Linked DNA regions of Homo sapiens. The protein of the gene in region 3 interacts with the protein of the main gene of each other region in a pairwise test. Each region holds a gene or a part of one and is shown on either strand. Other genes may lie near its edges. The genes, in order: WNK3, MAB21L3, LBX1 and UBTFL1.

Region 1 (7,293 bases), on a different chromosome or scaffold from region 3:
GTAAGCCAAGATCACGCCACTGCACTCCAGCCTGGGTGACAGAGCGAGACTCCCTCTAAAAAATAATAATAATAATATCCATTATTTTCTTTACTTCTGCCTACTCTGGTTCTTTGCAGCCACTGGCTTTATCATTTACCGGCTCAGCAATGAACAATATAGTAAAAACAAAACTCTATGGAAGAAAGTTAAGTCAACACTACAGAAATCTAACTCCTAAAACTATAATTATTTAAGCAAATGTAAACTTGTGATATGAAGATCAACAATGGTCTAGAAGTCAGAACTCCGGGGTTCACCACTTACTAGGGCATGTCTTGTTTTTCTGGGCTTCATTTCTTTTTCAGATAGAAGGAGAAAAATACCTTTCCTACCTGCCTCCCAACCAAAGTACCGTAATAAAATTATGTACAAGGTATGATAGAACTCTAAAGAGGGGGACCTAACCTAGCTTGGTGGAGGATGCTGGGAAAAGGAAGAAAGGGAAACCAGGAAAGGCTTTCAGGAATAGCTGGTGACAAATGTTAAGTTTTAAAAGAATGAGTTCAAATTCTAGGGGAGGGGGAGAGAGAGCATTCCAGGTAGAGGGGGACATCAGAAGCAAAGGCAGAGAGAGAAACACCATAAATCTGTTTATGTTATTCCCCTTCTTAAACAATCAAGAGTTCCTAATTCACCCCAGCCTCAACCTAAGATTCCAGCCTTATCTCATTCCATTCTCCAAATATACCATGCTTACACTTTCAAGACCCAAAATGTGAATGTCCTTCATCTAGAAACATCTAGTTCAAAACTGGGAGGCCGCCTTGCCTGGTTGAGTTAGTGCAACATTTCCAGGCTCTTACAGTGCCTTTATACTTCTACTGTACTATTTAATACATTAAGTATTCATCTCAATCTGAGAGACTATGAACAGAATATGACCTTTTGTATTCAAACTGCGGGTAGCCTAAACAAGGATTACACTCTTTCCAATATCAAAGCAGAATAAAAGAAAAACAGCATGGGAATGTTCTCAAGTTTGCAACATTTCCAAGAAAACTAAATATATATCAGTAAAATGTGTAAAAAATAATCACAAAAGATTAAAATCCATAACCGTTAATCTTGACCCAGAACAGAATGAGACCAGGACAAGACATCCTTATCAGAAGATAAGTATTCAGAGAACAAAATGTTCACGTAATCTGTTGTAATTTAAACTCACACCAAAAAGCGAGTGCCAATTTTCAAAGATAAATTCGTAATGACCAAAAAAAATGTACAATTATTTTAGTTCAAAGTCAGCTTTAGTGGATTTTTTAAGACAGAGTCTCGCTCTGTCGCCCAGGCTAGAGTGCAGTGGCACAATCTTGGCTAGCTGCAACCTCTGCCTCCCAGGTTCAAGAGATTCTTCTGCCTCAGCCTCCCAAGTAGCTGGGATTACAGGCACGCTCCACCACGCCCGGCTAAGCTTTAGTGCATTTTTGCTATCCTTTAATGCAAGGTATCTTTCCCTTGAGCTGTCGAGTTTAAACAATTTTTAAACTCATCAATCCAAAGGATAGAGACCGTCTTAAAAGACACCCGCTGCTCTGTCACATACTAAGACCTCTTCAAAAGTTCTCTTGGTATTACAACTTACTATAGATGAAAAACAGATAACGGTATCTCCAAAAATTGGATACAATCACTACTATGCAGAAGATTTTCACAACTCAAAAGCTGTTTTATTCATATAATTGTCTCAATCAACAGTAACTCTTAAGAAAAAATAGCCATACTATTCGCATCTGTTTTGAGGGTTCAGTCTCATTTTAACAGTCTCTCAACCCCCAAGATACGGAGATACTCACGTGCAGGATTTCCACCCCCACCCCATTATATAAATGTTTCACCACTTTTAACTAGTCAAACAAAACCTCTTTCAGTACAGTGAAGCCACCTCACCACTTTCATCCTCACCTATCATACCATCTCCTCCCCATCCCCAACCTGTCAGTCACACAACACACACCACCCCTTCCCAAATAACACCTCAGAATCTCCTTGAGCCTAACACATTTACACAAGCCAGCAATATTTCTCACCCCATCCTGTCCCTCACACATCAGCTGAACCTCTGAAATAAATCTACTCTTTCCTTCATCCTATTCCCATCAATACAACTGAACTTCCCACACCCGAAGCGATCTTCCCTTTCAGTAGCTTCAATCTCACTTAAGTGATCACTCAGTCCTTTGTCAACCGTCTCCTGTCCCCCTCCTGTATCCTCCTCACCTTCCCCGTCCCCTGGTCTTCCATCAGCTCCCAAAGTTGTCACCCCTCAACAACAACCAAAAAAAAAATCAAAAACAAAAAAGAAAACAAAACAAAAAACGCACCTCAGCCTCAAACCTGCCCTTCCCCACTTTCCCCCTGTTCATTTTCCTCTCCGCCTATTCAGCAGTTTCGACAGCCCCTTAGCCCGGAGCCCGGCCTCGTCCGGTACCGACTGGTGAAGGCACTCACCCTGCTTCGGTCAAGCCGCCCCCCGCTAGGGCGCTTACTCCTAACAGACTCTTGGCCGCCGCTGCCTCCCTCCATTCATCCCTGGCCCATTCATCTCTCAGCCCGATCCCAGACACGCCCCCCGGCCTCCTCCCTCTCTCCTAGCGCCCCGGCCGGCCCGGGACCCTCACCAGATTAGAGGCTCTCGCAAAGGAAGACTCTCTTACTCTTTTCGCTTCTCCCTCGCCCTCTCTCGAGCCTCCTCTCGCCCCACGACGAGCCACACCGTAGAATAGACACATACACACACACCGCCTCCTCCTCGATCGCCTCCTCCGATGCTTCTTACTCCTCTCCTCGATGTCTCGAGCTCCGCTCCGCGTCGTGTGCGCTTGCGCGCGCGAGCGTCTCCCCGCGAGCCCACCGGGCCAGCTACGGCCGGTAGGTAAAGAGCGGGCGGAGAGAGGGGAGCGGGGTACGAGCCCAAGCTCGCGCTCGGCCCGGAGCTGAGCAGACGCACGCGTACTCCAGCCAGGGAATTCGGACGGGTAGGAGAGAGGGGCGGAGGGGGGGCGGGGAAGGGAGGGGAGAACAGAAGAGGGGGAGGGGCGGAGAAAGCCAACGGAGCAGCCCCAACTCGGAACCGCCCCTATCGCAGCGAGGTGCCGAGTGGCCAGCCAACTAGAGTGCGCGCACGCCTCCCGCCCCCCTCGGCGCCGCGGGAGAGAGGGATGCGCGTCGAGGAGAAAGGCTTCTCCCCATTCCAAAGAGAAAATCTCTTAGAGGAAGCACGCGCGACATCTCCTGTGTGTTCCGAAGCGCTCTCGCTCTCTCTCAGCTGCTCTACCCTCTCCCCTCAGAGAAGAAGAAGAAGAAGAAAAGTCCAAGCACACACTACTTCCTAGCCCCCCACTGCCCACCCTTGGGTCTCCGCGAGCCTCTGAATGCTGTAGCGCCGCTGTTAGGAGGTGGTACCCGCCGGCACCTTTTCGCCCGCCACCCCTGACTCCCTTTTTCCAACTCCCGGGATTTCTCGCGAGACCCATACCTGCCGGCTTTGGGATTAGAAGTCGAAGCACCGATTTACAAATACTGGCCTCCCAGTTACGTTGCGGGGGCAACAGCCACGGCATGTCTCCCCCGCCCCCCAGGACCGCAGTGCGCGCGCGCGGGGGCTGGGAAACGACCAAAGCAGGGATGGGAAAGGGAAGCTATGAAACTGATTTTTGACGGCATGTAACCGCTAGGCCTGGGCACGTGCCCTGCGCCTCGCAGACGGGTGCGATGTACCCTGGGAATTGTAGTTTTTCTTCCCACCTATGGTCCGACTCCCACCCTCAGTTTTACTTAGGCCTCTGACCGGGAGGGGGATTTCCGACGCCATTTTGCCGGGAACAATGGCCCTCGGCCCTGATGGTGGCAGGTGGGGGAGGGAGCAATGGTTTTAAGGGTTCGGTGAACCTCCTCGGCCCCTTGGTGCCATAGCAACCCCTTCAGAGACCTGGTCCCGCCCCCTCGCCGCCGCCAGGCTTCTAGAGCGCGCGCATGCGGAAAGGCTGCCTCCCACTGAGACTGGCTCTCTGTGTCTCCCACCGGCCACCTCCTTGAAAAACTCCCAGATCCTCTAGCTGGTAGTGAATGCTGCCTCCTTCGAGCTTTCGGTACATGTTAGCCTCGGCGCAGCGGCTTCAAACTGCTTCCTGTGCTATGCCAGAAGCAGTATAGAATTGTTTCCGTCATTCTCCCATGAATAATCCCGGCCCGACAGAGGAGGAAATTGAGGCTCAGGAGGGGAAATGGACATGAATTGCTCAACTTCATACTATTTGTGGAGTTAGAACTTGAACCCAGGTGTGCTCACTCCAGAGCCGAGGCATTTTTCAATCTCCCGGGAGTCATCTGGTGGCGCAGCTAAAGGGCAGGGCATTCTTTTCGAATGCCCCTCAAGCTAGGAGGCTGTGTGGGAAATATCTGACTAATGCTTTCAGCCCTCCAGCCTCGGCCCTATCACTGAGTTATCCCTTCTCCACTACCTATTTTTCTTTTCCTGCTGTAGGCCTCAGAAATCTCAGTCTTTTTCAGCTCTTTAAAACAGCACAATCAATACATTTAACTCAGGTTTCCAAAGTCCAAATAAAGTGTAATGGTTTATCTTTGACTTTGTAAGGGGGGGGTGAGTATAATGATGGGAGGCCTTGTAGCCCTATCTCTTGCCTCTGTCCCTTCCTTATTAATTTCCATATTGCCAGAATATGTAAGGAAACCGGACCATGCCCTTAATACATTCAAACTCCCATCTTTCCGTTTTGACAACGGAGGGAGATGCTGAGGAAACAATAGGGCTATGAGGTCCAGCCACTAGAATGGTGGAGATCTTCCTTCCTGGCCGATTTGAAAGAGCAAGGTGTGGTTTCTCCAAATAGCTTCACCATTCTACCTTAAGAGTCTCTGAAGTCTCAATTAGCTGAAAAATGGATGGGGTCTCCCACGCTCCTTTCCTCACTGTCCCTGAAGATAGTCCCTTTTCCCTGTTGATTGGTTGACTAGTGTAGGAAAAACAGAGGAAGAGTAGCTGAACAACCAGTAAGGGGCAATTTCAAAGTTTCAAAGGTTACCAGTTTATCCCAAGTCTTTGTAGGTCCTGACTCCCATGAGATGGCAACTAGAAACTTGTGGCCACCGTTTCTGTTTCTCAGTGTCACCCTATTCCCACCACTGCCACACACATCACCTTCATGAAAAGGCATCTAGCTCAGTTGTGACCTGCTCCTCTTCCCTTGTCTCTGAGCCTGATGATGTAGGTAATGAATAAAGAACAACACTTGGAAATGTTAGCCCTTCAATCTGCTTAGATGTTAATTCTTTTGAGCAGTACCTCTTTGATAGTTGAATACTTGTTAAAAAAAAAAAAAGCTATTGAGTAGAGTGACTTTTATGACCTTTAGAAATTTGAAAATCAAACAAGTCGGCTCCCCATCCAAATACAGGTCCTTCTCAATTTAGACCTTTTATTGACATATGTGCTCTTCTGTTTGGGACAATCTGGTCTGTAACTCAGCACAAATGCCACTGTAGGCAGAAAGGGGAGCGGGCAATTCTAGCTAATCACCAAGGTATGACAGGGAACATTCCCTTCCTACCCACTGGTTTCCACTGACTCTCAAGTGACATTTGCAATGTTCCTACTCATCAAACAGAAATTTTGATTTATATTAACTATTTGTAGTTTGGTTTTACATTGTTCCAGGAAATCATCCTTCCAATAATCTAATTCATTTTTTTCTAGAGGCTCCGGTGCCAATAAATTACAAAAAATTTAACTGGAATCATTTTTAAACCCCAAAATCCCACAGGAGTGGGGGTAGGAGGTTAGTTTCATGGCCCTACTATCTGTTGGTCTCTTTCCTACCACACAGGATGGTAACTCCTTCAGTCAACAAGATGGAGCTGAAATGAACCTCAAAGTTTGTAGTTAGCTGACCACTGCAACCATGGGTAGAGTTGTGACTGTTTCTGGAACTTAATTTCTGACCCGGTGCCCTCTTTTTAACCAGGTTATTGGGGCGGGGAGGTAAACAATGTCCATCATTCTTGATGTTCATTTCCCTTAACCCAAGTGATACCACAGTTTGGGGATCTTAGGTAATGTCCAGGCATGGGTGTAAGTGGGAGTGGAGTAAGGATATCTGCTTCTAGTTATTTAGATCCTGGCAGTTTGTGCTGAGCCCTCTGCCCACATGGGTCCTTTCCAGTGCTGTGGTCCTCTCCAATGTCTCTGCGACATGGGGCACAGAATTTTTCCCGAAGTCCCAATAGATATTGGGCCATCTACCTAGACATTCCACACAGCTCTTCCTCTCTTGAGTCTTCCCCATCAGCTAGGTGTTGCTCCTGGGAAGCTGAGGCTAATCAATGCTGCTTGAGCTCCCACAGAGATCTCTCTCTGCTCTTGTTGTCTCTTTCTCGCAAGGAGAGGGGAGTGAGGAAGAGAAGAATCATTTTTTAGGTTTGTGCAACTCTTTCTTCTAGTTTTCTGGCCCAGATACTTGGTCTCTGCCCCTACACCCTAATACCCCTTGCTTAAGGACTTATGTTTTGGAAACACAGAAACCAGAAAGAGTGGCAGAGTATTTGTTTTACTGCCTTGCCACCTCCCTCCCCTGAGGTACACCACAAAGCTATGTTATTTTGGGGGCAGAGACAGGTAGAGAAAAAGAAAAATACAGGAAAGAAAAAAAATATATTATATTCTCTAGATAATACTGAGCCACATTCTCCTTCTATTAAATCTTAGCATCCCAGCAAGGGAAAGTGTACTTCTCATCCAGGTGCCTCTGTTCAAGGCAGTAACTCCCAGGGCTTGGATGTCTGGGTGATCTTTTCTCCAGCCAAGTCTTTCCACTAGGGGAATTTCTCACCAGGATCATCTAAGGGTTATTAATGTCCTCCCAGAAGGTTCTCTTTCCTCCCAGCACAAGTTGAGTATTCCTTGAGTAAGGGCATACTCAGAAGTGAACAGCTATCTTTGGCTTAGCGACTGACTTAGAAACACTCCACGTTTCAGGCTGGATAATGCAATTTCTCCAGCCTTGCTATTGGTCTAGTTTCTTCTTCCTAGATGCAGTCTTTCCACATGTGCCCAGAGCATACGTCAGGGGGCAATTTATTTATTTATTTATTTATTTTTGAGACAGAGTCTTGCTCTGTCGCCCAGGCTGGAGTTCAGTGGTGCAATCTTGGCTCACTGCAACTTCCGCCTCCCGGGTTCAAGCGATTCTCCTGCCTCAGCCTCCAGAGTAGCTGGGATTACAGGTACGTGCCACC
Region 2 (7,689 bases), on a different chromosome or scaffold from region 3:
ATGTACATCACATAGTTGTTGATTAGGTTAAATGAGATCCTGTATGCACCTTGACCTGTCGCCTTCCACACCACTCTTGCCTTTAACGAACTCTAAAGATATTTCTGATCATATATGTGCAAGATACTCTGAATGTCAAAGGAAAGAAAGGTATGCAAGACACTGTTCTTCCCTCCAGAAACTTATAAAGAATGAAATGATATGACATGTAAGTTGCCAACCAAGATGATAATAGAAAAGTGTCAGGAGTTAATATACAAACTCATGATCAAATAAATGGTGCCAGTAATACTAATTATAACGGGAGTGAATATGTGGGCAAAATCATTTTGTGCTGGGGTGTCAGGGACTCTTTCTTGAGAAAGTGGACTCTGAGTTTGAAGGATGAATATGAGCCAGAAAAGTGGCGAGGAGGAGCTGGGGCCCTTGGCCTGCTCAGGGCCCAGTTCTTGTTGGGCAGAAATGGGAGACTCAACCACCTACAGGAATGGAGTAGGGGACACACGTGAGAGAGGCAGCGGGGACCAGGAGCAAGTGTCAGACACAGGATCAGCCTCCTGAGAATTGGCCAGCACGTGCTCTGGCTAGCAAACACTCAGCCCCAGCACACAGTTTCCAGGCAAGAAACTGGGACCTGTAGTTGCGAAATATTCTGATTTTTTTCCCCTGGAAAGACAGAAATCTGGATTTCTATGCAAAATCTATTTTGAAATGTTTGTGAAAAACATTAGAAATAATCTACAGGCCAAACAAAACATGAGCACACACTGGATTCAACGTGTCGAACACTGTTTAGGATTTCTGCTATTGGAAATGCAGGGGGAGCGGAGGGTAGAAAGATAGAGCAGTTGAAGTTACTTGAACACCACACTAAAAAGTTTGGAGTTTTTTCTTACAAAAAATACAGGACCCACGAAAAAAATGCCAGCCAATATCTCTTCCACTTAGAGCCCTCAAAGGGAGGAATTAATGGGAAATCACTTTGTTTACTCTAGTTTTTATCATCCCAGGTTTTCCTTATTTATCTCTCTTAATGGTTTTGCCTAAGAAATACATTTTACTTATCACTATGATAATGATCTTCTCTTTCGAACTTGTAAAGGCATGAAAACTGCAGACCAGTGCCTACTTCTTAGTCAATTTAAATATTTTGGTTTTAACATTAACATCATGCCTTAGTAGCTTCATCCGTAAATGAAAAGGCTTAAACTAGGTAATATTTAAGTTTCCTTCAAGTTCTAACATTTGACATGACCATCTAGACCATCTAGAAGAAATTAAGTTCTTAACTGATGTGTACTAAAAATATAATAATATTTAAAAACCTAGTACTTTCACAGTCTTTAAAAAGCTTTGTTTTAATTTCATTAGCTCTTTTTCCATTACCCCATGAAGCTCCTATTATTATTCCCATTTTACAGAGAAGAAGGCCAAGGCTCAGGCAGGTTAAGTGACTCACAACCACACGAGTGTCAGTGGCAGAGCTGGAGTTCCCCCTCATTCCCCAGATTCCTACTCTCCATTCTATATTCTATACTCAGCATGTCTCTGGGTACCAGACCCTCAAAGAGAAGTAAGGCTGATATATGTTAAGCCCCCAAACATTGTTATAGGTGACAGTCTGTTTTCTGAGGAGCATTTTATGTGTCTTTAGAAAGAGCCTGAGATCCTTTCTGGACGAAGGTTTGTTTGGAAGTAGTGTGAATGGGGAGGGGGTTCATGGGAGAGACCGGGTCTGTCCTTACCTTATTCAGTAGGCAATCTTCTAAGTCTCCCACAGTAAGGTATTTCATGGCTTCTTGGTCAGTCCTCAGTAGAACAGCAACTTCCTGGTTTTTTTTTTTTTCTCAATGGAGTGCAACACTTGTGAGTAGATAGCACTCCCAGTAATGTGAGTCTCTGGGTACTAAGTTTTTCTGGAAGTGTGTAATGGACCAGAGACTTGCCTTCCGAACCCTTCACTCATGTTTTTATTTCCAAATTGTGAAAATCCATCTGTCATCTTTTGGGAAATTAAAAAAAAAAGAATTTAAAAAGAAGAGTTGATAAAATTGAATTTGAGTCCAACCTAATCATACCTTAGTTAGCTACATTGACTGGTGCTTTCACCAGAGAGCAATTTTCCAAATTGTATTTCCCACCCAAGTACTTAAAAGTTCCATCCAAGTCAGAAATACCCTGTAGTTGGCTTCTCCCCACCTTTTATGCTCCTGTCCCAACACTAGATGCACCGTGGAACTCAGTATCTTATATCTCCTGGTCCTTATCCTGTTGACAGTAAACACCCCTTGCTCTCCAAGCCAGAAAATCCCACGGATTGATTTACCTTCTTTACAATAAACAAATAGGAAACTGCCCAACAACCAGCCTGACACCCATCATTATGCCCGCAAACAAGTGATCAGGTCTTGTCAGCCAGCGCAGAGCACAACGGTTGGCATTTAGAAAAGCATGCACACACGTACACACAGGCACACACATATACACAGGCACACACGTACACACAGGCACACACATATACACAGGCACACACACGTACACAGAGTGCACACGGGCACACACCCACAGGAATGGCTGGTCAGGAATCCTTCTGCTCACCTGCTGACCTTTAAACGTAATTTCCCTCTTCCAACTTGAAAGCTGGCAGTAAAAATAAAGTCAGTGTAAACAGGTCCCTTTAGAGTCGAGGGAACACTCACGTCTGGTTTTGCCAGCAAAACTTATGTTGGAAAACAGCTCAGGCAGTAAATTCCCAGTTGGGCTGGCTGGGGCTAGTTTTACTACAGAAAAAAAAAAAAAATTTCACAATGGTCTGATCTCCTTGAAGCTGGTAAACATCACGGAGTCTGCTATCAGATAATCTAAAGAAATTACAGCCCTTCTGGGAGCACTACTTACTTTTAAACAATGTTCCAAAGGCAAGTGTTTCCAAGCCCACCTGTAAGTGCTGCCCACAAAGGCCACTGCACTATTTGGGGCCTCAGCGTTTGCATATCTTCCCATACTCTGCCCCAAGCAAAAGCCGCATCAGAGCTCCCTAGCTGCTCTGTGCCCCACCCACGTCATTACCTCCAGCTTTCAGTCCAACTTCTACAGAACTCCTGCCAATGCACAGCCTGATATAAATATTGTAAAGCTACATCCTCTCCAATGACCCTCTGATAGCACCCCTCAAAACAGCCTTGATTTTCCATTTGTTTCTATATGTAATTCTAAATCTCCTTCTTTTGATATCAAGTGCTCCCAAATTTTTCAGAATCTTATTCCCTGGGCTTTTCTTATCATAGTAGTGCCAAACTATTTGTTTTTCACAGACAGCAAGAGCCTCTTTCTCTGAACTTGCAATTTAGAATTCTCTCTCCACCTCATTTTCAACATTACGAAAGTCCCACTGTTTCTCTCATGTGCTCATTTTTGTTGTTACTTCTGCTTTCACTGTAATCATTAACTTGTGAGTCCCTTTCCTCCGGTGGGGTCTTTCCTAATGTTCGAGGGTTACCCCAGACACCTGTCATCAGATGCACAAACTTTCATTATTTTTGCACCTGTGGCTGCCCTATCTTGATTGCTCCAGTACCGCAGCTGATCAAAATGTTATAACTGGAATATTCTCTTGCCCTACGATCCAGCGACAATTGCCGGCTGTGAGCAGGGAAAGCAACCAACAGGGCCAACTGAGCAATCAGGAAACGAAGAAATAATCATGTGCTCAGGGAAGCTACACAGTCCGATTTTACCAGGATGTCATATCCAGGGAATAGGTGTGTTGTGGGGGCACAACCCAATTCCCTACTCCATGATTTAGCTCCTTATGGGCAAATGCTCTGAAATACAGGGCAGTCCCACAAATAGACTCTCTGACAGCTCCTGTCTGACAGTTTGATGAAGACAAGCTTTTTTTAGATGTAGATATCTGGGTAATTGGATATAGGATTCGCAAAAGGATTGAATTACAGTAAGCCTAAGGCACTTGTATGCTAGGCCACTGAGGAAATTCAAAGTTAGCTCAGGTTCTCTTCCTTCCTCAGAAAATAAATATTCTCCTTTCTCATGACTCACACCAAATGCAAGTACGGAAATGTAAACCTGCTTTGGCTCAGTTTCCATTGTGAAGACTAAGAACTTATTACAAGTCAGGTTAACAAGGCATGCAAAACCCTACGCTGCCAATCTGAGAAGTCCCGGGGAGATAATGCTAGCCCTGGTTTACCAGCAGAAGTGTTTGTTACTGATTTACTTAGTGTCTGAGATTTTAATTCCAAGAAGGAGGAAGGTTAGCTTGATCAAAATCAACCTTAAATATACAAATTTGTTAAAGTTTGCAGGATTACAAACTCTGACTTTTTTTTTTTTTTTGAGACGGAGTCTCGCTCTGTCGCCCAGGCTGGAGTGCAGTGGCGCAATCTCGGCTCACTGCAAGCTCCGCCTCCCAGGTTCATGCCATTCTCCTGCCTCAGCCTCGCCAGTAGCTAGGACTACAGGCGCCCGCCACCACGCCTTGCCAATTTTTTTGTATTTTCAGTAGAGACGGGATTTCACCATATTAGCCAGGAACAAACTCTGACTTTTTAAAAGATTTCCTGTAATCCCAAGATGACTCAGACTGAATCTGACAATGCAGAATACCAGGCAGAGATAATCGTCTGTGATGTGCTGAAGTCCACAGTAGTGAACAACCCGAGGCAGGGGCCAGTCTGTTCTGTATCTCCAGAGAAGCCTCAGTACCTAACGCACAACTGGCCCTCAATAAACATTACTGAATGCTTATTTGTTTGCATTAAACATTATGCAAAATGACATTATTTATTAGAATGTCACATTATAAAGTGACATTCTAGTAAATAAAATATATTTTAAGATGTGTAAAATCACCTTACAAATTATAAATTTAATTATATACATGCATCTGTGACTGCTTAAATTGCTATCTTCTTTTATAGAAAGGCCTGATATAAAAAAAAATTTAGCATAGTACTTGGCACATGATAAGACCTCAATAAATATTTGTGTTTATACTCCATTTCACTCCCTGAGGAAAAAGATCTATTTTTTAAGGCTTGTTTGGTTTTTTGTTTTTAAATTTTTATTTCAATAGCTTTTTACGTACAAGTGGTTTCTGGTTATGTGGATGAATTGTATAGTACTAAAGTCTGAGATTTTGGTGCATTCATCACCCACATAGTGTACATTGTACCCAATATGTAGTTTTTTATTCCTTAGTCCCCTCCCACGTCCCCCTTCTGAGTCTCCAAAGTCCATTATACCACTTTGTATGCCTTTGCATACCCATAGCTTAGCTCCCAGCTATAAGTGAGAAGATAAGGTATTTGGTTTTTCCATTCCTGAGTAACTTCACTTAAAATAGTGGCCTCCAGCTCCATCTAAATTGCTGCAAAAGACATAATTTTATTATTTTTATGGCTGAGTAGTATTCCATGGTGTATATGTACCACATTTTCTTCATCCACTCATTGATCGATGGACAATTAGGTTGGTTCCATATGAAAGATCCTTCTTTTAATGTATGTGAGTAATTCTCCTGGTCTTACCTGGTGGGTAGGATTGTTCACTGGGTTGGTCTTCACAGTTCCATCAAAAAGCTGGTCTTCTTTCCTTTCACACCTGACATGGTAACTGAGATAGTTTGAATTTGATCTTTGGTCTGGGTTCAGAGGTAGGGAATCCCAAACACAAATGCCTACATAGGCCAGGTGGTTAATAAAATAAATCAGGATAGAGTAGAACAATGGAAAGCGATAGGGGTCTGCGGTGGATGCAAGAGTATATATCCTATCTGGGATATTCTAACTTGTTTGGGTTATTTGTTTATTTAATTTATCTTTTTTAAGCAACACTGTACTACACACAAGATTCACCCCTGCACTCTGCACTCCTGCAATACTAAAATAGTTACAGTTCCCTGCAAGACCCCCTCCCTCACCATCTTCTCTGGACCCTTGCACCGACAATGCTCACTGCTTGGACTCTCCCCTTACCTTCCACCCCTTCACTGGGCTTCTATTTGTTCTCCAAGATTTGTCTTAGCTGCTACCTGCTCCAGGGCCTTCTCTGATTCTCAAGACTGGGTGGGGGACTCTACACGATGCTTCTAGGCCACCCAGTGCTAAACTCCTACTTTAGCTCTTATCATACTGCATTTTGTTACTTTGCTTGTATCTAGCTCCTGTGGTACCAAAAGCTCCTTAAAGGAAAAGATTTACCTTGTTGGAAACAGTATTTGACATATAGTAGCTGCTTAATAAATGAATGAATGCATGCATGAATTAATGACTAAATGACGGTGGCCCCTTTTCTTATTCTACAATGTAATCCCATTCTATCTCCCATCTGCAGGCATAAGATAAAGTGAGAAAAGTAAAGTTAAATAATGAGTAAGCTCCCATTAGTTCATTTAGGAACACAACAAAAGTAGAAAAGGAATAAGGAAATTTTCCTTGGAAAGGCTGATTTCAACTCAGAAAGTGCAAAACAACAGGATAAGATGTTGTGTACTTGAAGGAAGCCACTATTCACAGCCGAAAGGTGTCAGGAATGTTGAAAAACTGCCCAATAATTAGAACATGCCGTGTAGAACTTAGAAGCCAAAAACCCATGTCTTTGAAAAAGTCATGGCTCCATCTGGCCATTTCAATTAAAAGTACATTATTTCTTAGCTGCAATTATTATCACAATACATATAGAAAGGACTAGTTCCCCAATATTAGACTGAAGGAAGAAAATAAAAGTTTATTTAACACCAACAACTCTACCACTGTAGAGCCTGTGGTCAACAAGAAAGAATGAGAAATAACCAGTGCTGTCAACGCCAGCTCTCTATGCAGCAAAGATGACCTGTTCTAGTTAAAAAATCGTACATCATAGAAGATCCTGGTTTGGGCCGGGTGCAGTGGCTCATGCCTTAATCCCAGCACTTTGGGAGGCCAAGGTGGGTTGATCACGAGGTCAGGAGTTTGAGGCCAGCCTGACCAACATGATGAAACCCCATTTCTAATAAAAATACAAAAATTAGCTGGGCATGGTGGTGGGTGCCTGTAATCCCAGCTACTCAGGAGGCTGAGGCAGGAGAATCGCTTGAACCCGGGAGGTGGAGGTTGCAGTGAGCTGAGATTGTGCCACTGCACTCCAGCCTGGGTGACAGAGCGACACCCTGTCTAAAAAAAAAAAAAGAAAAAAAATCTCGGTTTGTCGGTTTGGGCTGGGGGGAGACTATATCTGTTTCCATCTCTCTGCATGTCCACCTATCTATATTTTTACGCACTAGAATGTCGTTCTGGATCTTCCTCATTCAAATGGTGCAAGCTGGAGGGCAACCTGGAAACTTATTTTTAACAGAGACCAGTTGTCAAAATAATGAAGCTTCTGCTATGGCTTGGATGACACTTTATTTTCAAATCAAATAGTAAAAGGTGTTTCCATTTTCACATTTTCCTTCCTGGTTTAAAAAAAAAAAAGAGTTGTATTTTTATCTGAAACTTTTCCTTAAGTCTATGTGAAACTCCTTTTCCTCTGCCCTGAGCTGTGTGAGGCTGGCATATTTTTCAGTTGACACCACCAGAAAAACACTGACAGTGAGAAAGGCATTTAAGAAAGAAGACAAAGCCGAGTACAGTGGTTCATGCCTGTAATCCCGGCACTTCGGGAGGCCAAGGCAGGCAGATCATCTGAGAT
Region 3 (6,821 bases):
TGATCCGCACTGCTGGCCAAGTTAACTTGTTTCAAGCAGTGTCAGACCCTTTTCTCTAAAGGAACTCTGGCCTGAGAGTCAATGCTGGTGCTTATACAAATAATCTGGAAATGAATGGGGGTACCAAAACAATCCAGAGTGAATCCAATGGAGTCTTTGGGGGTTTAAGCGAATTCTTCTCCTGTGTTAAGGTTTAACCTGTTTTGTTTGGGTCTGCAGGGTCCCCTTATTGTGGCAATTCATGAAATGCTGTTTCCCTCTTCTTTGTCTGGAATATTCCCTAAACTGAGGGAAAGCAGATTTTTGGCAGAATGATCCCTTCCCTATCCACTGAGAAAGAATAAACCTGGACCCTGGCTGTTTAAGCAGCAAACAGGAATTGAGGATCATGGTAGCATATAGATTATGCTCTGAAGACAGGTATTCCCTCTGTGGAGCAGACTCTGGGAATCAGCTGCTTTCAGCTCCAGGTGAGAAGATGCTGGCCCAGCTGACTGGGGGTGGGGAGACCCCCAGAGTGTCTGCCTTGCCCCAGCATGGGGGCTCAGTAGGGGATTGGGCAGAAAGATTGGAGCCCAGAATGTCAGGGCTGGCTCTACCCCCACTGACCCTGTGTTACTCATTTCTGGAATCCTCCTAATCTCTAAACTCCTCTGAGGGGCCCAAACCATTCCCCTCCACATTGCACAATCATGTATACCCCATTTGCTCTATGGAAAGTCATTCAACCGATATTCAGCGGGAGCCCGGTGTCTCCTAGGACTTCGAAGGTCCGAGATGAACTGGAATACCCAGAGGAAGGCTCCTGCCCTCAGGTCTGGCAGAGGAGGCAGGTAGGGGTCAGTACACAAACCCAAAACATACCTCATTGCTCTGCAAGAGGGGTACAAGAGGCAAGCGGATTGGGGTCCCAGGAGTCCAGAAGATTCCAGACCCCCACACAATGCGGTTTTTCAGCAGCGAAGGTAGGGGTGGGACCACGGTGTTGGGAAAAGGTTGGTGTAGCAGGTGGGCTGGTTTCCAAAGGTGGCCTGGATAAGGGGATCTGGGTGAATCAAAACAACAAAACACAGGGTGATACCACAGACTTCCCCACATCCCTGCACCTCACACTGCACTCCACACCCCAGCCATATGGTGTGCCCAAGTGTGTTTAACCAAGAGGCCAACCAATTAGGTCAAAAGAGCCAAGCCATAGGATTGGACAGCAGGTACAGGTCAGCCAGGGAAGAAGAGGTTTGGTGTTGGTGGTGGAGGTAACTCAGCAGATGATTGTGAGACGTCGTGTTCCTTTTGACATGGTGTGGCTGAAGACTAAAGATCTCAGTACTAGCCAGCAGGATAAGACATTAAGAACACGCCAAGCAGAGGGACCCCTCTGCTCCCCAGTTCATGTTCCCCTTCCTGTCAGCTTCCCAGTAACCCTGAACTCCGCTGGTCTTGAGGATCTGGGAGATGGGCAACAGCAGGGGATTGGCTTGTCCTTAAAGTCCTATCCTGTGGGCTAGTACCAGATGCGATGCAAAGACTGAAGAGGACAGGAAGGGTGTGGAAGTATGGGAGGAACTCTCTCTCTCTCTCTCTCTCTCTTTCTCTCTATTGGGATCCAAGGGTCCTTGTTCCTGGATCTAGAGGGGCCTCCCTGCCTCCCTGCTAGCCTCACTTGCCTGAGGCTCTGGGTCAGGGGGTTGGGGTTATGGCAGGAAAAGGCTGAAATGGGATCCTGAGGGCAGGAAGTGAGAGGACTGACCCCTCTTGGCCCCAGAGCTTCCAAGCCACCCAGATTCAGCTCCCCAACGCCCTCTCCCACCGGTCCGCCTCTGCTGGTCTCTAGGCTCTGACTCCTCTGTTGCTAGGCCCAGCAGCACCTCGTGGCTCCCAGGGCAGCGCAGAAGAGTAGAGACAGGTCTGCCCTGGAGTGGGTCTGCAGCTCTGAGGGAACTGTGATTCCCATTCTCACCAATCCTGCCTCTGAGCATTTGTCTTCCCCCCACTCGCTTACTGCCACCCCGAAAATGCAGGACAAAGATGAGTTAGAGGGTAGGGGTTCTTCCCAACATTCACAGAACTGGGGCACCAAACAAGAACCCTTTCTCCCTACACTGTCCTTTTTACCCCAGAGAGCTGCCAGCCACAATTCCAAACAAACAACTGAAGGTGAGATCATGAAACCTATCTCTGCTGTGCAGAGGCCCCCTACGCTGAGGCATCCAGAGAAAGAACCTGCTTCCCGCCCCGGAGCCCAGCTTAGCTCACTCCCTCTCTGGGGTTAGATATGAGGGGAGAGGGGGCAAGAAATCCTAATCTTCCCATTCCAACCCTTGGCCTGGGCCACAAATCCTCACTTTGGCCTCTCTGGGCCCTTTTCTGGTCCAAGCGGTGCTGCCCAATGCCCAACCTCACCGCCCACCCAGGAGTTTACAAACAAAGCCAGGGCCAGGGCTGTGTGTGTGTGGGAGGGGAACAGCCCTTCTCCCTGGACTCCAACCCCCTCTAGGTCCTCCCCTCCTTTCTCCAAGGGCAGAAATGGAAAATTAGTAAGGAGGCCAGTGGCCCCACATAAACAGAATGGGGTAGCAAGACAGGAAGGCCTGAGGGCACAGCCCTGCTGGAATGCCTCAGGGAAATGAAAGAAATAGCTGAGTTCAAACACACCTATATACCCACAGGTTCACACACATTTACACAAATATACGCATGGAGAAACACACACAAACACACATTCAAAAACACAAACACCTTCAAGTAACAATGCACACAACATGTTCTCCCGATATTCACAGATCCCGGGCCCTAAGGTCTTTAGCCCCAGCCTAACTGGAAGCCTGGCCTCCCTGCGAGTTCCTGAGAGCAAAGCCCCAGCCGCGGCCTGGCTCCCGCCGGGCCCCCGCCCCGCATCCGGAACAGCTGGAGTCGGCCTGGCCATGCACTCAAGCCGGGCGCTGGGCTAGGCGGGGCCGGCAGCGGGGCCCCGGCCGGGGCCCGGGCGGAGCGCAGCAGGGAGGCACGGAGCCGGCCCCGTTAGCCCCGGCACCTGGCCTGGCTACTCTTCAGACGCCCATCATCAGGCCGTTGGTGGCCCCAGCCAGCCTGGGGAGCGGCTGCCGGAGGAAAGTGAGCAAGATTGCCGGAGGAGGTAGGGCGGCCGCTTCGGAATCAGGCCGGGGAGAGGCGTCCAGAGCCGCCAACAATTCCCTCCTCCGCCTCTCCGCGTGGAGAAGGCTGAGCTCTCCGACTAGCCCCCTCCCCCAACCCCTGGGGTCCTCCACCCCCTTCCCGCGTCGCCCACCCAAGGCTGCGCAGCCGGCTCTGACCTCCTGCGGGCCAGCGCAGGAGGGCTTCAGATTCCCTCTCCCCAGGCGCGTCGCCCAGGCAGTGGGGTGAGGGGCAAGAGGGTCAGAGGTAGAGGCGCTGGGCTCTTGATCTCAGCTCCGCAAAGTCCACTCTGGGTGGCAGCGGGGCCCACCCGGGCTCCTGGTCCTACCTGGCCCGAGCGGCGGCCGCGTCCCTCCCGGGCTGGGGTTCCCACCACTCTTTCGGGCTCCACATCCCGGGTCGGAGAGACCGAGACCTTCGGGCCGGTGCGGTCATTGCAGCTAGGCCGGCGGGAGGCGGGTGCGCCAGGAGCGCGGCTCGCAGTTTGGGGTGGGGGCGGTGGCTTTTCAGTCGCCCGAGGTTCGGGTGCAATAAAGGAGCAGCTAATGTAATTTACAAACAGCTCGGGCCGAACGCAGCGCAGCGCCCGGACTGACAGGCGCATTAGGCAGGCTAATTCCAGCCGGCTCCTCCTACCCCCGGCCCGCTAATTAATGAGCTTCCCAACTTACAGCCGCCTGCATTGGACAGACAGAGAGTGAAAGAGAGGGCGAGGGAGAGGGAGAGAAGGAGAGAGAAGGGGGGAGCAGAGAAGAGAGAAGAGAGAGGGAGGGAGGGAGAGCGAGAACAGGAGGAGAGAACAGAGGCAAAGAAGAGAGGAAAAAGGGAGAAAGGAGAGAGAAAGAGAAAGAAGTGCCGCTGCAGATAATTGATTACACCGCGATCAAGGCTAACTTGTTAGCAATAGTCAATTGCCCCGTCTCTCCGCCTCCCTCGCAGTCCGGGATCGGCGCCCTCGCCTCGGCTCTTCCAACTGCGGCCGCCAGGACCCGGGGCCAGGAGCCACTGCCGAGCCACCTGACACCTTTAAATAGCACCGGGGTTGGCGAAACTGGAGCCCCGCGCAGCGCGCCCCGGCTCCGGCCCCGGATTGCTGGAAGCCCCAGCAGCAGCGGCGCCCGCGTCAGCGCCCTCTTCCCGGGGCCCCGCGCTGTTCTCCCCTCCTCAGCCGCCGCGCTAATCGGCCCCGCGCCCGGCCCGCGCCCTGCCCAGTGCGGCCTCCTTTCCACCCGCCGCTGCCTGCCCGCGCCGTCCGGCGCCCGAGCTGCCCGCGGGCTGGGTCCCCGCGGCCCGAGCCGCCCCGGCCGGGACCCCGAACAAGGCCGAGATGACTTCCAAGGAGGACGGCAAGGCGGCGCCGGGGGAGGAGCGGCGGCGCAGCCCGCTGGACCACCTGCCTCCGCCTGCCAACTCCAACAAGCCACTGACGCCGTTCAGCATCGAGGACATCCTCAACAAGCCGTCTGTGCGGAGAAGTTACTCGCTGTGCGGGGCGGCGCACCTGCTGGCCGCCGCGGACAAGCACGCGCAGGGCGGCTTGCCCCTGGCGGGCCGCGCGCTGCTCTCGCAGACCTCGCCGCTGTGCGCGCTGGAGGAGCTCGCCAGCAAGACGTTTAAGGGGCTGGAGGTCAGCGTTCTGCAGGCAGCCGAAGGTAGGCGCAGCTGCTGGGTTCCCCTGCACCCAGCGCCTCGCGCCCTGTGCCCTGCGCGCTTCGTCCCCTATGCCTCTGCTCGCCTCTGCCCTCTCCGGCCGCCAGGGCCTTCCAGCCTGAGCAGCTGCTTATGGGAGTGAAGATATGTGGGACGGGACCCAATCCTTATTTCCCAGGGACCTCTGGGTAGGCCAGAGCTGGGGGGTGGCAGGAGAAGGGTGGCCAAGCTCTTTCCGCAGTCTGCTTGCTTTGCCGGGCTCCCTTGCGTTCCCAGTGTCCTGGGCGCTCTTAGCCCGGCTACTCGGCGTGGGGAATCGAGAGTCTTTTGCCGGGGACCTTATGGGTAGGGTAGAGTTGAAGTGATTGGGAAGGGATGGAGAACCAACATTCACACCGCAATTAGGGTGTCTCTGTCTGGCTTTCTCATACCCTTAGAGACTTTGGGTCTTTCAAACCAACTCTTAGGTAGGGGGCAGAGACCAAAACAATTTTTCCTAGGGACTTCTGGGAGACCAAAGACAGGAGATGGTTTGCCATAGCCAAGACTTGCCCTGGTCCTGGAGGCTGAATTAAATCTGAGAAGGGAACATTGGTAGACTGCAGGCCGGACAGGCCTGGGTGGGTTACGGAGTTACGGGGGCGAGAGCCAGGGTGGGCTTCCTCTCTCCCAACGCGAGCCTACACTGTCCTTTCCTCCCAGGCCGCGACGGTATGACCATCTTTGGGCAGCGGCAGACCCCTAAGAAGCGGCGAAAGTCGCGCACGGCCTTCACCAACCACCAGATCTATGAATTGGAAAAGCGCTTTCTATACCAGAAGTACCTGTCCCCCGCCGATCGCGACCAAATCGCGCAGCAGCTGGGCCTCACCAACGCGCAAGTCATCACCTGGTTCCAGAATCGGCGCGCTAAGCTCAAGCGGGACCTGGAGGAGATGAAGGCCGACGTAGAGTCCGCCAAGAAACTGGGCCCCAGCGGGCAGATGGACATCGTGGCGCTGGCCGAACTCGAGCAGAACTCGGAGGCCACAGCCGGCGGTGGCGGCGGCTGCGGCAGGGCCAAGTCGAGGCCCGGCTCTCCGGTCCTCCCCCCAGGCGCCCCGAAGGCCCCGGGCGCTGGCGCCCTGCAGCTCTCGCCTGCCTCTCCGCTCACGGACCAGCCGGCCAGCAGCCAGGACTGCTCGGAGGACGAGGAAGACGAAGAGATCGACGTGGACGATTGAGCGGCGCCCCGGGTCTTCCGCCGCCCTGGGCTCCTAGCGCTCGAAAGCCCAACGCCTCCCGGACCGGACCGCCGAGGGGAGCTGGGACCTCCTCTGCCAACTCCCGCCTCCTCCCCTGTCCCCGGCCCCGGACTCGGCTCCTGGCAGCCGCCTCTTCCCTCTCGAAGCAATAAACCCAGGCTGGCCGGCCGGGCCGGCCGCCACCAGCGGCCTCCGCCGCCCCGGAAGCCCTCGCCGTGCAATTCTGTATGGCTTCTATATAAATATTTAAACCTATATAGCGGGTTCTTCCCACCGCAGCCTGATTTTTCCTTTCTTTTATTATTATTTTTTAAATCTCGGAGATTTCGATGTTTTCAAAGCTCTCGGGCTGCCGGGTTTGCTGAGGGCGAGACAGAAACCAGGGCGGGGAACACTAACCCTGCGGTCTAGGGGAGTGGCAGCTCCGGCTGTTTTGATTTTTCTCTGCATGTGGCGAATGCACCGGCCCGCTCCTTCCTCGCCTCCCTCGGCCTTATTGCAGTTGACTTCTATTTCCTCGGGCCTTTTTTCCTCATGTGGGAGGGGAAGAGGTGGGCAGTCAGGTCCTGACTTGCAAGTTTCAAAATCGATCTTTCCTCCCCACCCTCTGAGAGAAAAGTCTGTTTTCGATGCCATTTCTGCCTCCTAATGCCCACTAATGCTGTTTTTAAGATTCCTCCCTCCCTCCCGCATTTCCTCGGACTGACTGTTGGAGTCCGGCTCTTAGGGACAATGCAGGGGGAAATCCAACCAACCAACTATCGAAAACAG
Region 4 (6,192 bases), on a different chromosome or scaffold from region 3:
AGATATCAAGAGTGGGACAATTCTCTTAAGACACCTACCCCACCTTTCATCAAATATCCCCGACCTTAGATTTAGTGCAGGAGTCCTGAAAAACATTTCCACAGGGAAGTTTGGGTCCCAGGCTTATGGGTATCCCCCTACCACCTTTGGCAGGACAAAAATGAGTAAAGCAAAGCTTCTTGCTTCAGAAATATTCAGTCTAATACAGTGTGTACCCCACAACGTAATCATCTCTTCATTTCAGAAGCCTTAATTGCATAAAGTTCCTCGGGAAAGGGATGATATTTGTTTGTTTGTTTTTTTAAGGATAAGGCCAGTATTGGCTCAAACTTATATTTATTCTTCCCAAAGAGTTCCTCCCAGGTTCATAATCTTGATGTAGGAGAGTGCTGCACCAAGTTGCTTCTTTCTTCCCAACCTGTCCTACTTTGCGGGAGGAAGGAAGAAAAGAAAACAAACAAACAAAAAAAAAAAAACAAGGAAGCTGCACTAGAGCCACTGCCCTCAGACATCAACTTCTATTTCTTCTCCACTGCTGCAGTCTGAAGAGTTACTGCTTTCTTCCTTTTCTCTATCTTTCTTCCTGTTCTCTTCTGGTTCCATGGAGACATGACAGTTTACCCAAATAGTCTGTGATGAATCTGTTCCTGCAGCCTGGAGCCCTTGCCCCTCCCCAAACCCTTCTTGCAGACCCTTTGCTGATGAGGACTGTGGATCTGCTTGTTTCAACCTGGGGTCCGGGCCTCCTGTCATGGCCATATTCTTACCCTTAGCATAGGTCGATTCTTTGTATGCAGCATAATTTTCAGGTGACAAAGTCTTGAGCCAGAGATCCAATTTCACCTTGTATTGCTTCTGCAGCTCCTCAGCCTGGCTCTTAAAATGATCCTTCTGGCTCTGCGGGATGCGCTGCCAGCGTCTGCCAATCTCTACCATGCGCTCCCTCACTGACAAATGTTGCATCTCTTTACTTGACCAGGAATCTTGGTGAAACTTGTGGTATCCATTCATGGGGGGTTTCTGAGGCTCTCCATGAAATTTTACCTTCTTGAAAAATCGATCCGTTTTTGGAAGAGACCTCACTTCTTCAATATTTTTCTGAAACTTCTTTTGCACTTTGTTTTGAGTCCTCTTGGAGACACTAGATTTCTTGGCCTTCTGGACTAAATCAGGGTGTTCTTCCCTGAATCGAGCAAGTTTTTCCTCAAATTCTTGCTTTTCCTTCCGGAAATCCTGAATATATTTCTGTTTCATCTGCTCTGGGAGTTCCCTGTATTTCTTTGACAGGATTTTGGTCAGTTCCTGGCTTCTCATCCCAGGGTACATTTGGGAGTACTGGGGCCAACTCTCCTTGAAGAAGCGATTGTAAGCAGTAAGGGGCCTCTTTGGAAAGTCTGGACCGTTCCTGTATTTTTGGCTTTTGTTCATCTTTTTAACACATTTCTTAGCTTCCAGGACTAATTCTTTCAAAGTGCCGAATTTTCTCAAGTTGCAAGAAATCTCTAACCATTTGAGTCTGCACATTTCACCAGAAAAGTTTTTAAAAGCTACTTTTCCCCAGTCCATGTGTGACTGAGTTGAGCTAAACGTGCTGTTGTCATCAGATGGGCGATTATTCTCCATGCATTCCAGTAACCTCAAGATGTCTTTGTTGGACCAATGGCCTTGGCTTCTAGGCAAAGCCATTTAGATGTCTTTGGCTTACTTATAAGATCCCGGTTATGTAGACACCAGAGCAAGAACACAGAGTTCTTTACTTTTAAGACTCAGTGGATGATTTATTTCTGGAAGTATTGCAGTATGTGTGATTCTGTATTTCTGAGGAGAAAGAAAGTTACTCTCCTTCATTTGGATTAATGAAGCAAATTACATCCTATTTGTCATATGTCCCTTGTATAATTCATTTGACCCTTAACTATAAATAAACATTGCCTGTTTCTGAATTAAATTTATGTTTGCCTTTCATATGCTACATGCACAATATTCAGTATCTCCACACCCCACCCCAGCCTGCTTTCTGCCAGATCTCACATGAACCTATCTTAAATTGAGTTGCATAACACAAACACCAGACCACTCATCACTTAAGAAGCTTAATATAACAGAAATGCCCTGAAGACAGAGTCAGAAGTTAAAGTGGAAGGAGAAATGCCTAAACAGGAAGGACTGTTCATTCTACAGTGCCCTGAGTATGGCCATTTTCTAAGCACAGCCCAAATAGCCATAGCTAAAGGTGCAGATGAGAAGTTAAAGATACAATCGGACAAGCCCAAGAGCTCCTCCAGACATGCATCCAACTGTTACCTTTTTATAAGGGAATGTGAACCTGTGATAAAAGACTGAATTATAGATTCTCCAGGACCAGTGCATGGGAATTAATGCTTTCTTGCTTTCTTTTATTTCTTTTTTTTTTTTTTAATTGAGACGGAGTTTCACTCTTGTCGCCCGGGTTAGAGTGCAGTGGGGCAATCTGGGCTCACTGCAACCTCTGTTTTTCAGCTTCAAGTGATTCTCCTGCCTCAGCCTCCCAAGCAGCTGAGATTACAGGCATGTGCCACCACGACTGGCTAATTTTTCTGTATTTTTTAGTAGAGATGGGGTTTCACCATGTTGGCCAGGCTGGTCTCGAATTCCCAACCTCAGGTGATCCGCCTGCCTCGGCTTCCCAGAGCGCTAGGATTACAGGCGTGAGCCACCACTCCTGGGCCGGGAATGAATGCTTTCTAAGAACCATACTGCTTCTCCTTTTAAATATCAAGGATTTAATGACAATTATAAAACATTTCAACTTTATTTGGTTAATTGTTCATCATATTTAAGCCTCAGTGAAAGTTTGGCTTCCTCCAGAAACTCCCTCCAGAATACCTGCCATTTTCCATTACAAAACTTGAAAATGTGGCAGATCTGATGACTACTCCTTTTTTTTTTTTTTTTTTTAGCAATTCTGTCTTGCCTGAAGTAATTCTTCTGGCACGTGATTTCTGGATTCACTCTTGAAATTCTCATAACTCTTTCACTAGTCTTTTTAGGATGATCTTCTATTCTAAGACTAAGCCTCACATAAATAAAATTGTGTACGAATACATACAACATTAAATAAAACCGAATCTTAAATGGAGGGTGAATAAGGAGTGTAACAGTGGGCCTTCAGGGGGAAAATATGCATTAGAAGGGAAAGAGAACAGAGTTAAGATACTGGTGGAAGTTGAAATTCTGAGAATGAGTTCTGAATATCTGAGAATAATATTTTTGAGAACTATTTTTAATTCTCAGTAGAGTATAGAAGGATGTAGCCTTTGAATGACATTAAAAATTCACTAGAAGTGTAAAGAATAATAGTCATAATATCACGTAAGTCACAAATGTCTCAAAACATAGATTAAAATGTTCTGAAATATTGGAATATAATTAAAGTCCATATTTGAGACAGAAGAGAAAATAAATAATAGCTTATATATTATATTAAATTTATTATGTGAAAAAGACTTTTGGGAAGTTGTTCCATAATAAATGAAGATATAAATAACTATAATTAAAATTTACAAAAAAAAAGCATTAAAATAAACTGTGAAAAACTTAAAAGAATGTAAAATTTAAAGTTATTAAATTTTTCATCTCAAAAATCATAAAAAAGTCATTTCATCAATGTCCTATGAAAATTAAAATAAAACAAACTTAGTAATGTAACAAATAAAAAGAGTAATTAAGAAAAAAGTAACTTTCACAAATCAAAGTTAAAAAAAAGAAAAAATAATGGATTCCATACTTTGTGTTTAAGATCAGAACATAGTCTCAAATGGTTCAGAAATAAAAAATGTCAGACTTCCAAATATATTGTGGTGATTATAAATAATAAAAATAAATAAATACAAGATGTATTCTAACTCAGAAAAAAGGGAAAAAACATAGAATTGACATTAGAAAAGAGGTGTGAAATATTCAGAATCTGAATTTAGGAAAAAAGAAGTACCATCTTCCCAATTGTAAAAGTTAGGGTGATGTGCGTAAAGCAGTGGAAATAAAAATACAGTTGTGTTTTTGTTGTTATGGGGCTGTTTTCTGAGCCAGACATTTTTTTCAAATTGCCAGTTAAAGAGTGGCCCCCCGAAATATATGTCTAAGTCCTAACCACTGAAACCTGTGAATATGGACTTTTGAAAATAGGATCTTTGCAGATGTAACTACCTTGGTAATCTCCCAACAAGATTAGTCTGGGTTTAGGGTGGGACCTAAGTCCAATGACTGGTATCCTTAGAGAAAAAATAAAAGGAAAATCTGAGACACATAGACAGCCATGTGGAGACAGAGGCAGAGACAGAGCTCACTAGAGCTATGCTGCCACAAGCCAATGAAAGCCAAGGATTCTCATCACCCACCAGAAGCTAGCAGAGAGGCAGGAGGTGGATTTCCCCTCAGAATTTCCAAAGGGAACCACTCTATCAACATGTTGATTTTAAATGTTAGGCATTCAGAAATGTGAGAGAGCAAATTATTGTTTTATCTGTGATAGTTTATTACAGCAGCCCCAGGAACCTAATATGCAAATGTTTTACATTTATTATTAATATCTTATTTTTCTCCTTAAAACTCTGTGAGCTCATTTTATGCTTGCTGTTCCATTACATATATGACGAAACTGTGACCAGGCATGGTGACTCATGCCTGTAATCCCAGCACTTTTGGAGCCTAAGATCCAAAAGGAGGGTCGTTTGAACTCAGGAGTTTGAGACAAGCCTGGGCAACAAAGTGAGAGACTCCTGTCAAAAAAAAAAACAAAAAACAAAAACAAGAAAGAAAGACAGAAAGAAAGAAAAAGAAAGAAAGAAAGAAAAAGAATGAAAGAGAAAGAAAGAAAGAAAGGAAGGAAGGAAGAAAGGAAGGAAGGAAGGAAGAAAGACAGACAGACAGACAGACAGAAAGAAAGAAAGAAAGAAAGAAAGAAAGAAAGAAAGAAGGAAAGAAACTGGGAAAACTAAGAATTTATATAGGGCCAGGCACAGTGGCTCATGCCTGTAATTTGAACATTTTTGGAGGCTGATGCAGGAAGATTGCTTGAGTTCAGGAGTTCCAGACCAGCCTGGGCAGCATGGAGAGACCCCATGTCTACAAAAACAAAAATTTAGCCAGGCCCACACTTGTAGTGCCTGTAGTCCCAACTACTCTGGAGGCTGAGGTGAGAGGATGGCTTGAGCACAGGAGGTCAAGACTTCAGTGAGCCTTGATTGTATCACTGCACTTCAGACTAGGCAACAGAGTGAGACTCTCTGTCTCAAAAAAATTGACCTTGTCAATGTTGTGTGATTTTCCCTTTTCTGTGTCATAATCCATCTAATTTTTATTTTTCATTTTTTATCACAATCACTTACGAAATACTTAGAAGTTTAAGACATTTTATTCCTGAACCATTTGAGAGTAAGTTTTGATCTTAAACAAAATGTATGAACTCCTGTGACTTTATGAAGCTGTATGAATTGTTAGTTTTTTAAATTTTTGTAACATAAAAGATAAATATTTGGCGAGGCACAGAGCCTCACGCCTGTAATCCCAGCACTTTGGAGGCTGAGGCAGGCAGATCACGAGGTCAAAAGATCAAGACCATCCTGGCTGACATGGTGAAACCCCATCTCTACTAAAAATACAAAAATTAGCTGGGCATGGTGGTGCACCCCTGTAGTCCCAGCTACTCGGGAGGCTGAGGCAGGAGAATCGCTTGAACCTGGGAGGCAGAGGTTGCAGTGAGCTGAGATCACGCCACTGCATTCCAGCCTGGTGACAGAGTGAGACTGCATCTCAAAAAAGGAAAATAAAAATAAAATAAAATAAAATAAACATTTATATAGTAGCTTCACAAAGTCATATGTATGATATTTATTATCAAACTATATTAAATATAATAAAAATATCAAAAAATAACAAGAGGCTTTAAAAAGAGGATTCAAACAACAAAATAGATTTGTAAAATAAAAATACCATGACAGAAATAAAAACTTCAGTGGAATATTAGGAAAATAAAAAAGTGCCTTTGAGCACTTAAAAACTTTGCAGACGACCAAGGCTGCATTCAACCTGAAGTTAAAGACAACATGGAACTTTTCATATTCTACAATAAAGGTTTCCAATTAAATTCTAGATATCATGCTATAGATAAAACTGTATAATATCTAGGACTTTCCCTCCAGAAGTTCACAATTT

What was found.
Region 1: the proteins of LBX1 (region 3) and WNK3 interact in binary tests that used the Homo sapiens proteins (3 or more experiments, as listed by UniProt).
Region 2: the proteins of LBX1 (region 3) and MAB21L3 interact in binary tests that used the Homo sapiens proteins (3 or more experiments, as listed by UniProt).
Region 4: the proteins of LBX1 (region 3) and UBTFL1 interact in binary tests that used the Homo sapiens proteins (3 or more experiments, as listed by UniProt).

What each region holds. Positions count from the first base shown.
Region 1 is NC_000023.11:54,355,026-54,362,318, forward strand, and holds the start of WNK3 (serine/threonine-protein kinase WNK3), read right to left. Parts: upstream 3,022-7,293; 5' UTR 2,661-3,021; intron 1-2,660.
Region 2 is NC_000001.11:116,106,720-116,114,408, reverse strand, and holds the start of MAB21L3 (protein mab-21-like 3), read right to left. Parts: upstream 3,011-7,689; 5' UTR 2,899-3,010; exon of another isoform or gene 2,781-2,898; 5' UTR 2,599-2,780; intron 2,003-2,598; 5' UTR 1,794-2,002; coding exon 1,746-1,793; intron 1-1,745.
Region 3 is NC_000010.11:101,226,478-101,233,298, reverse strand, and holds LBX1 (transcription factor LBX1), read left to right. Parts: upstream 1-3,835; 5' UTR 3,836-4,483; coding exon 4,484-4,808; intron 4,809-5,508; coding exon 5,509-6,029; 3' UTR 6,030-6,305; downstream 6,306-6,821. UniProt on the Homo sapiens protein: Transcription factor required for the development of GABAergic interneurons in the dorsal horn of the spinal cord and migration and further development of hypaxial muscle precursor cells for limb muscles, diaphragm and hypoglossal cord.
Region 4 is NC_000011.10:90,081,444-90,087,635, reverse strand, and holds UBTFL1 (upstream-binding factor 1-like protein 1), read right to left. Parts: upstream 1,687-6,192; coding exon 505-1,686; downstream 1-504. UniProt on the Homo sapiens protein: Essential for proliferation of the inner cell mass and trophectodermal cells in peri-implantation development.